Linked DNA regions of Homo sapiens: region 1 is linked to region 2. Evidence: fine-mapped expression QTL. A gene starts in region 2. The other region holds a variant in brackets. All regions are shown on one strand. Distances are between the middles of the regions. Region 1 overlaps MCOLN2 (mucolipin TRP cation channel 2). Region 2 holds the start of MCOLN2 (mucolipin TRP cation channel 2).

Region 1 (4,396 bases), 62 kb after region 2:
ACTGTTATACATGAATCTTAAACCTCCGTGCTGTCCTACCAGAATAATGTCGAGTAACCTGGAACACTCAGACTTTCTTCTTTTTAGGTGTCACATTTAATATGTCTAGAGAGAATTACTGTTTTTCCTATTTGAGATATTATATAATTAACAAAGTGACAACCTCTGGGTTGGTAGTAAATCTTGATAATATTGCTCTTCATACTCCATGTCACTGCTTTAAAGGTGACTCATGAGAAAAAATTATTCTTTGATATGATCTCTCTGATTTGGAGAACTTACTGTCTTAGAGCCTGGAAAAATGTATTTTTCTTCCTTGCTTGCCTCATGCTCTGAAAGCTTTTCCACCTCTTTGTCACTAGAGGGCAGTGTTGCACTGTGTGGAATAAATACCGTTCCTGAGGATTCGGCTTTAATTCACTGACTCCAAGGTCTGTGGACAAGTGGTCCCATCTCCTTTGCACCCCATCCCCGTCTCCCCTACCTCATCATTATTCTGGAAGGTGCTCAGATAAGATTGCTAGAATTTTACTAGATGGCTACCATTCTCAAGTGCTGTCTGTTAGGCATGGTGCCCAAGATTCTTCATCTCCCTTGCTGTGTTAACCCTTCCCTCCCCTTCTCTGTGAAGAAATCTGATTGTCCTGTTACAGAGAATAGGCACCTTAATATATTAAATAATATTCCTGAGATTACCCAGCTAGAAAGTGGCAGAGATGGGATTCAAACCCAGGTCGGCCTGACTCCAGTACCTGTGCTTTGACCCATACCCTGTAGAGCTTTTCTTGGTATTATCTAAAACAGATCATTGCAAGAGAGCATTTAGCCTGACAAGAAACAGTCTTGTACTTGGAGATCAACTGTGAGAGGACAGCCATGTAATCGGCTTCATTCTTTCAATGGTGTCAAGGTCACCTCATGGAAAATGAGGTTATTTGTTTTGTGAGCCTGACTGCATTTCCATATGTTCAATTTGTCCTTTCAAAGGATCCAGGTGAAACTGGGATGCTCTGAGCCAGCACTGTCCAAGAAAAATACAGTTTGGGCTACAATTGAGAGCCTTGCCTATACTGTAAAATTTTCTAGTAGCTACATGAAGAAATAAAAAAACAGATGAAATTATTTTTAATTATATATTTTAAGCCTAATATACCCAAAATATTATTTCAGCATGTATTCAGTATAAAATATTGAAATATTTTACATTCCTCCATACTAGTCTTTTTGATCTGGTGGATATTTTATCCACATAGCACGTCTCAATTTGGACTAGCTATCTATTGGATGCTGGCTATTCACACATTCCTGGTGACTACCACTATGGACATTGCAGCTCTAGACTTATGTCTTTCACTTAATGTTAGCTTTCCTTTATACCCCTGGAGGAGGGGAGGGATAAGGGATGTCTGTAGGGTTGCCTGCAGGTCTGTTTATGGCATCTCTCACCAGGCTGATATATTGGGGAAATACACAGCTGAGTTAATTCACTGAATGTACAAGTCAGTTGGGGGAGAGAACGTCAGTCTGGTTTTGGAACTTTGTGCTTTTCTTCACCATATTGCTGCCTCTTTGAATCTGAAGTTAGAATATTTTATTGCCCCTTGCATCCTTTCCCCCAAATTAATCCAAGCTGTCAGCATGTTCAGGTTCTGCCAGTATCTGAATCAGAGGACTTTCAGGTTACCTGAAGCCTTGAAAAGCTAGGCATTCCAAGCGGGCATTTTTGTGGGATTTTTAGAATCACAGCAACCTTGATTGTGAAAGCTAATTCTTTCTTTAAAACAAAACAACTAAAAAGGAGACATTAGGAAAACCGTTTGACTGATAGCTGGGGTCCCATAACACTTCAGCTTCCTATCTTCCTGTTAGGCATCTGATTTCAGGGGCTCAATGGAAAGGGAGTCAAGATGCAAAAGGCTTCCTGCTGATGTGTATTCCCAGCACTAATGGACTTTGGCACAGTGCCCTTTCAAAATGCCTGGGCACAGAGGGTGAGAGACTGTTGATGTTCTTCCAGACCTCATCTTGAATTATTAAACATTACTCTAATGCGGCTTTTACATTTCCAGAGGACTTTTTTTCCTGTGAGGAATAAATCATAGCCTTGCATTGTCCCCATTTTACAAATGAGAAGACCAAGACTTGAAAAGTTGTTGGACTTCACTGATGCCATGGGTCAAAGTTCAGCAGACTCTGCATTACATTTTCCTCCTTCCAAGCCCTCTGGTTTTAGCCAAGTACCCCTCAGCTAAAACATTTTGCCTAAAGTTT[G/A]CATGAGATTCTTGGCACCAGCTCTTAAAGCAAATATTTATGTTGTTCTCTGACATAAGCCATTGCAGGTTATGGTTTCATTGAAATTAAAGGTTTTTGGCCCAACTGCAAACTTATCATTTGTGAAATGAATGGTTGAGTTCTCATCGTGGGCCCAGAGAACCTATGGGGACTCTTTATGGAAATACCCATTTAATACGTATTAAATATCTACTGTGCACCCAACATTGCTAGGTTCTTGTAGACCAAGTTCTTGGAGGGAAGGAACTGTAGTTTGTTCCTCTTTACATTCCCAGTGTCCAGCACAGCACATAGACCATGGTAGGTGCCCAAAAAGTTTGTTTTGAACAAACAAGAAGCAGAGAGAGAGTAGTACCTGCTTTCCAGGGGCTTATGATCACTCAAGATCCAAAGGAATGCCTTACAAATGTGGTCCTTCTAGACTGGAAGCACATTAGGACCTTGAGTATTTTTAAGCTCACTTCTACTATGGAATTTGGCCACTGAAATAGACTCTGGTTCACAGCCACTTCTTGTACAAAATGGCAGGGTGTTACCAAACACCTAAAATTGACTGGGTCTCTGTTTTAACTCTTTGGTGTGTTAAAATAATTCTCATGTTCACAAGAGGAGGGGGAGGTAAAATGGTTATGAATAATGTTAATGTTGAGACAGATATTGTGTGTAGCCTGGTAAGTAACTAAACAGAAAATTAAAAAATGAATGTGACATGTACTGACAAACTAGCTATTTGCAGTTGAAACCTGAAGCACAGACAGTTGTGCTTGGAGTTAGGGGTTCTTGAAACTAGAGAAAGGAGTTGACTGGATTCCAAAAGAAACTAAGAAATGTGAATTATTAATGGTGCTGTCAGAGTTGTAGTTGACATCCATAGAAACCAACTTTAATGTCAATGTTTTCAGCTTTAACTTCAATGTTTTAAGGCTTGTGTAGCGTATGGAAAATATTTACTCTGGCAATCGCCTGTTTTACTGTTAAATAATCTACATATTGTTAAGTGATCTGTTCATTTGGATATTTCCTCTAGGTCTTTTTGGAGGAGGACTTTAGTTCATCAGAGTTTTTGCTGATGCAGCAAAGCCATGGGTGGGATCCTTGTTTGGGGTGCGTTTGTAGACCTTCTCCCTTGGCCACCAACTTTACCTTGCCTGGTCCAGCCACGTGGCTGGTAGTGTAAGGCACGGTGTTTGTATCTAGTTGGAGTACAGGGAAGTGTGTATAAAAACAATTAGAAGACCATAGTTCATTCTGTGATTCTTACCGATACGGAGTGCAGAGAAAGGACTAGAACTACCAGGGCACTTGGTCTTGAAGTACACTCTGAAATGACCCTTGAACATTGGCTTAATTGGACACAGAGAAGAGAAAGAAGAATAGAGCAGGTGAGGAGAATAAATTCCATGAGGGAAAAATGTAGGGATGGGCCTGGTGTTGGAGGAGAAGATAAGCACAGCATATTAATACTGTCAAGGAGGAGATGTGATGAGGCTGCATAAAGGAGGAACTTATCACAACCTTCTTGGTTTAGATTTTTATTTTGCATCCAAACTTTGTATAATCTCACAAGGGAGAAATGACCTGAAAGCCTTCTTCTTAAAGTACAGGTTTTACTGCAGCTTTGACTGGGGAGGGTAAAGAGATTGGAGTAAAAGAGACTTCCTTGGAAGTTTCTTTAATAATTCAGAAATTTGTGTTGACATCACAGTAGAGTAGTAAGGGTGGATTGGAGAAACATGTGATAGGAACAGACAGGCCTTAGAAGACTGAAAGCGGGGAAGAGTAATCAATTCAACACAGAGTTTTAAGGACTTAATTATTTCAGAGTAAATGTTTCTTTGGTAGGAGATTGGAATCACTGACAGAAATAGGGCAATTTAGAAAAAAAAGTTCATTTTTCTGGTTAGGGTGGTGAAAAGTTTTGTTTTGTTGGCATTTTCAAGGAATGGTCTGTTATATAACAAATGCCAGCTGAGCACAGTGGCTCATGCCTGTAATCCAAGCACTTTGGGAGGCTGAGGTGGGCGGATCACCTGAGGCCAGGAGTTCGAGACCAGCCTGGCCAACATGGTGAAACCCCATCTCTACAAAAAAATACAAAAATTAG
Region 2 (4,396 bases):
TCCACTCGATTCTCATAGGGGCAGAAGCCCTACTGTGAACTGCGCATGCGATGGATCTAAGTTGCAGGTTGTGTGCTCCTTATAAGACTCTAATGCCTACTGATCTAAGGTGCAACAGTTTCATCCCGAAAACATCCTCCCCTCATCCCCCCACCTGTCCGTGGAAAATATCATCTTCCATGGAACCAGTCCCTGGTGCCAAAAGGTTGGGGTCTTACTATGTTGCCCAGGCTGGAGTGCAGTTACTATTCACAAAGCTGGATGATTGCGCACCTCCGATGAAAGGGGCTCAAAACCAAGGCATTTCTGCCTAATAACCCCTTGGAAGTGCCTTAAAAGAGGGTCAATTATGTGTGCTTTTATATACATCGTCTGTCCAACTGCTTCTGCCTGGACACGCATATTAAAATAATTACCTGGCAGAATATTCTTTGCCTGAGCTAAACCCGGAGATCTTTTAAACGCTTGCAGACTCACAGAGCCTGGCACTGCGGACTTTGCTGCTGCTACCTCGTGAAAAGGAGGGGTACGAGCTCTAGGAGGCTGTCGGCCACGTCCAAACTACCAAGCTAACATCACTAGGAGCCGAACACGGCTTTTGGTCATGTACTGACGACTCTCATCTCTAAGATTCACGAACGGCGACCGATTGTCTGTTCGATTTCCCACAGGCGTCTTCCTTTCGTGCACCAAGAGGGAAAAGCAACGGCGGCTGCAGCAGGGCGCTGGGGTTACGAGTCCAGCCCTGGGGCCGTGCGCCCTCCCTCCGCGCCCGCCGGGCCACGCTGACGCTCCCTCCCGGCTCCCTGCCTTTCATCCCGACGCGGGCGCAGGGCAACTCGCTTTTCCTATTCCTTGCGCGCCGGTCGCACTTTCTAACATCTCAGAAATATGGCCCTTGTCACAGACTTTCATGATCGTGCACTTTAGAGAAAAGCCAGAATGAATGAACTTGTCAGTTTAATGTGAAGTCCTCAAGGGAAAGGACCATGTCTTTGTCATCCCAGAGACCACAGTACCCAACGGTCGGCTTGGCTCTCAGTGAGTGTTTCCCTAAGCATCAAAACAGGAATGACCAAAGCAACGGACAAATTAATGCATGTGGAAACAAGAAATGAATGCATGAGAGAGTGAAGAAAAGAAGGGGCCAGGCGCAGCGGCTTACACCTGTAATCCTAGCACTTTGGGAGGCGGAGGCAGGAGAATCGCTTGGGTCCAGGAGTTCAAGACTGCAGTCAGCAGTGATCGCAGGTCAGGCGACAGAGTGAGACCCGGTCTCACCACCACCCCCCCGAAAAAGGCAGGAACCCCAGAGGGCCGGGAGTGCCAGGTGCGGCCGCCCGGGAGCGGTGTGGAGGGTGCGTGGGCCACTTTGCCGCAGGGCCCACCGCCCGGGTCCCTCTGTAAGGCGCTTCTCCGGCAGACACCCCGAGCCAAAGCGGGCCGTACCGCAGCGTTGGGCACTTGGGTGGAGAGTGCAAGGGCGGCGGGCCTGCGCCCAGACAGGTGTAGCCGTCCCACGCTAGGTGTCCTCCTGCCGCTCCCTGGCCGCGCCATGCCTCGAGGCATGGAGGTGCTGGACCTGCCGGTGTGCAACCGCGCCTCGGGCCTGTCCTGGGGGCCGCACCACAGGTCAGTGCCCCACGGCGCCCTTGGCGTGCCCCACGCCTCCCTGGGGGCCCCACCGCCGCCCCCTTTTGGGACTGCTTACTTCCTCGGCTCTTCTCGCGCGCGCCTCGGTTCCATCCCCTACGGCCCCCACCCCGCCTCCGCGTCGCCGACCCCCTTCTCCGGGAGCGCGGGGAGGCTGGTCCGCTGAAGCGTGGAATAAGTCCCCTAGGACCCCAACTGGGGAAGCTCCGGTCCCCGGTAGGAGGCGGCGGGGCGGGGCGGGGCGGGGCAGCCCCTTGGGGGCGGGGCGGGAGCGCCTGGCCACGCGCCGCATCCTGCAGGGTGCACACAGAGCCGCCTTTCAGCCGCCCGAGAACTGCCCGCCGCACTCCACGACTGCGGCGCCTGCTCTCGGGCCGGGGTCTGCGCGCACCACGCGGCCGGCAGAAAGGGTAAGAGAAGGGAACCCCGCTTTGCAGGGCTCCAACTTCGGCGGACGCGTTACGGCGAGGGCGAAATGAGTCGGCCGTGAACGGTGTTTCCTGTTCCGAATCCCGAGAGCCCTGGAAAGTTTTGAAGGAGGAGGCATGGCCCGGCAGCCTTATCGTTTTCCCCAGGCAAGGATTCCGGAGAGAGGATCAGGTGTTTTCAGGTTAACCGTCAGGTGAGGAGTCTGGGCTTCATCTTTCAGGATGCTGGACTGGAGAAATCTTCCTAAAGTCGATGGCTTTACTTTCGTAGACTAGAGCTTGCTTGCTGCCTTGGGAATGCTTATATTAACTGCTTGCAGTTAGTTAAATAAGGCTAGGCTGTGCCTTCCAGAACAAACAGGCCTTTCCCTCAGGTGGGAGGGTTGTAGTGTGGCTAACCCCAGTTCCTCGGCCTTTATGAAAAGGCGCACAGTTCAGCCGGTTGGCGCTGCCAGCGGGCCCCTCCTCCGTGGTCAAACCTCCAGCCACCCCAGCACAGTTGAGCCAAAGTTGTGAGTACAAACAGACCTTGGCTCCCCCGTTTCCTGCTCTCCAAACATATATATATATATATATATATATATATATATATATATGAAATATATACGTATGTGTAAGTGTGTGTGTCTCTGGTTGAACGGTACTTGTGGGAAACAAAATTGTGTGTCATTGTAAACTGAGAATGGAAGAAAAGGTTAGTAAGAGAAAGGTGGGAGAGGTTTCTTATGGGTGTCAGGATGTAGACTCTGATATTTTATGTAGAGGGAACCAACTACGTAGTTCTCCCCAGAAATGGGATGTGGGTTTCACTCTCAGGAGCTGCTCATCACCTTTGTGATGTGCTAACCAAAATCGCACAACTTTTGGGAAATTTGATAGCTTTCCCCTATTGAGTCAGAAGTTTCTTGAGACTTTAGCCTGTCTTCCTCTTCATACCTTAAGAGGAGTCAAACTCCCGTTGCCGTGAACTTTCCACAGGCACACCCTTCTCCTTTAGAAAACCGTTCATAGGTCAGTTTCTGTGGCCGGAACTCTAAAAACGACACATTTTCCATACAGAGGCCATCATAATACCAATTTTATTTAACCTCCTGTAATAAAAAATGAGTGAATCCTAATAAAGTGTTTGAGGTAGCCACATTCTTTTCTGTGAAGGAGGAACATATCAAAAGTGTTTTTTTTTAAAAAAATAGAGTAATAGATATAAAATATTTTAATGAAGCAAGTGAGAAGAACTGAGAGACATAGTTTGAGCAAAGGGGCACGAAATACAGAACTGAAAGTCAAGAATGATCATATTCACAAGCTGATCTCTTTGGCTATGTCTCTGTCAGTGAAGTGAAACCTAGAACAAGACAATTTTAAAACCGGCGGAAAAAGAGATGGCTTCTTGTGACTATAGCTTTCAAAGTAAAAGTAGTGGCCAAAGAAAACTCTTCTGGCTGTAAAAGTAAAAGTGGACTTTCCTGAAGCTGGGCTGTTTTCTTTAAGGCCTAGGGTCTAAGTTCCGTGTGTCAGTTCTGAAGAATTAAATCACTCTTTAGTGAGCTCTTGTGTCACATGTTAAGGGGTTCATAGAAAAAAGTGCAGGCATACCTTGTTTTATTGTTCTTTGCTTTATTGCACTTTGTAGATACTGCATTTAATTCAATTTTATTTTATTTTACAAATTGAAGGTTTGTGGCAACCCTGTGTCCAGCAAGTCTATTGGTGCCATTTTTCCAACAGCATGTGCTCACTTTGTGTCTCTATGTCACATTGTGGCAATTCTCTCAATATTTCAAACTTTTTCATCATTATTATTATATCTGTTATGGTGATCTGTGACCACTGATCTTTGATGTGACTACTGTAATTGTTTTGGGGTGCCATGAACTGTGCCCATATAAGACAGGGAACTCAATTAATAAATGTTGTATGTGTTCTGACTACTCCACCGACCAGCCATTCTTCTATCTCTTTTCCTCTCCCCAACCCTCTCTATTCCCTGAGACACCACAATATTGAAATTAGCCCAACTAATAACCCTACAGTGGTCTCTAAGTGTTTGAGTGCAAGGGACAATCACAGGTCTCTTACTTTAAAGGTAGGAGTGATTAAGCTTAGTGAGGAAGGTATGTTGAAAGCTGAGACAGACCAAAAGCTAGGCATTTTGTGCCATTTAGCCAAGTTTTGAATGCATATGAGATGTTCTTGAAGGAAATTATAAGTGCTACTCCAGTGAAAATACAAATGATAAGGAAGCAAAACAGCCTTATTGCTGTTATGGAGAAAGTTTTTGTGGTCTGGATAGAAGATCAAACCAGCACCAACAT

Evidence for each region. PIP is the estimated chance that this variant, and not a neighbour inherited with it, causes the effect.
Region 1: its variant is fine-mapped to the expression of MCOLN2 in blood mononuclear cells (TOPMed, PIP above 0.99).

The regions. Positions count from the first base shown.
Region 1 is chr1:84,932,375-84,936,770 of GRCh38, reverse strand. All of the region lies in intron 11 of MCOLN2 (mucolipin TRP cation channel 2), which reads left to right. Among named protein-coding and RNA genes, the nearest start is that of LPAR3, 41 kb to the right of the region's middle. The variant G/A (reference allele first, on the strand shown) is at 2,272.
Region 2 is chr1:84,994,675-84,999,070 of GRCh38, reverse strand. MCOLN2 (mucolipin TRP cation channel 2) reads left to right here and starts at 1,958. Exons shown (of 14, transcript NM_153259.4): 1 at 1,958-2,275. The coding sequence starts at 2,199. RefSeq lists enhancers at 224-1,095, 3,416-3,475 and silencers at 1,666-1,955, 2,566-2,615.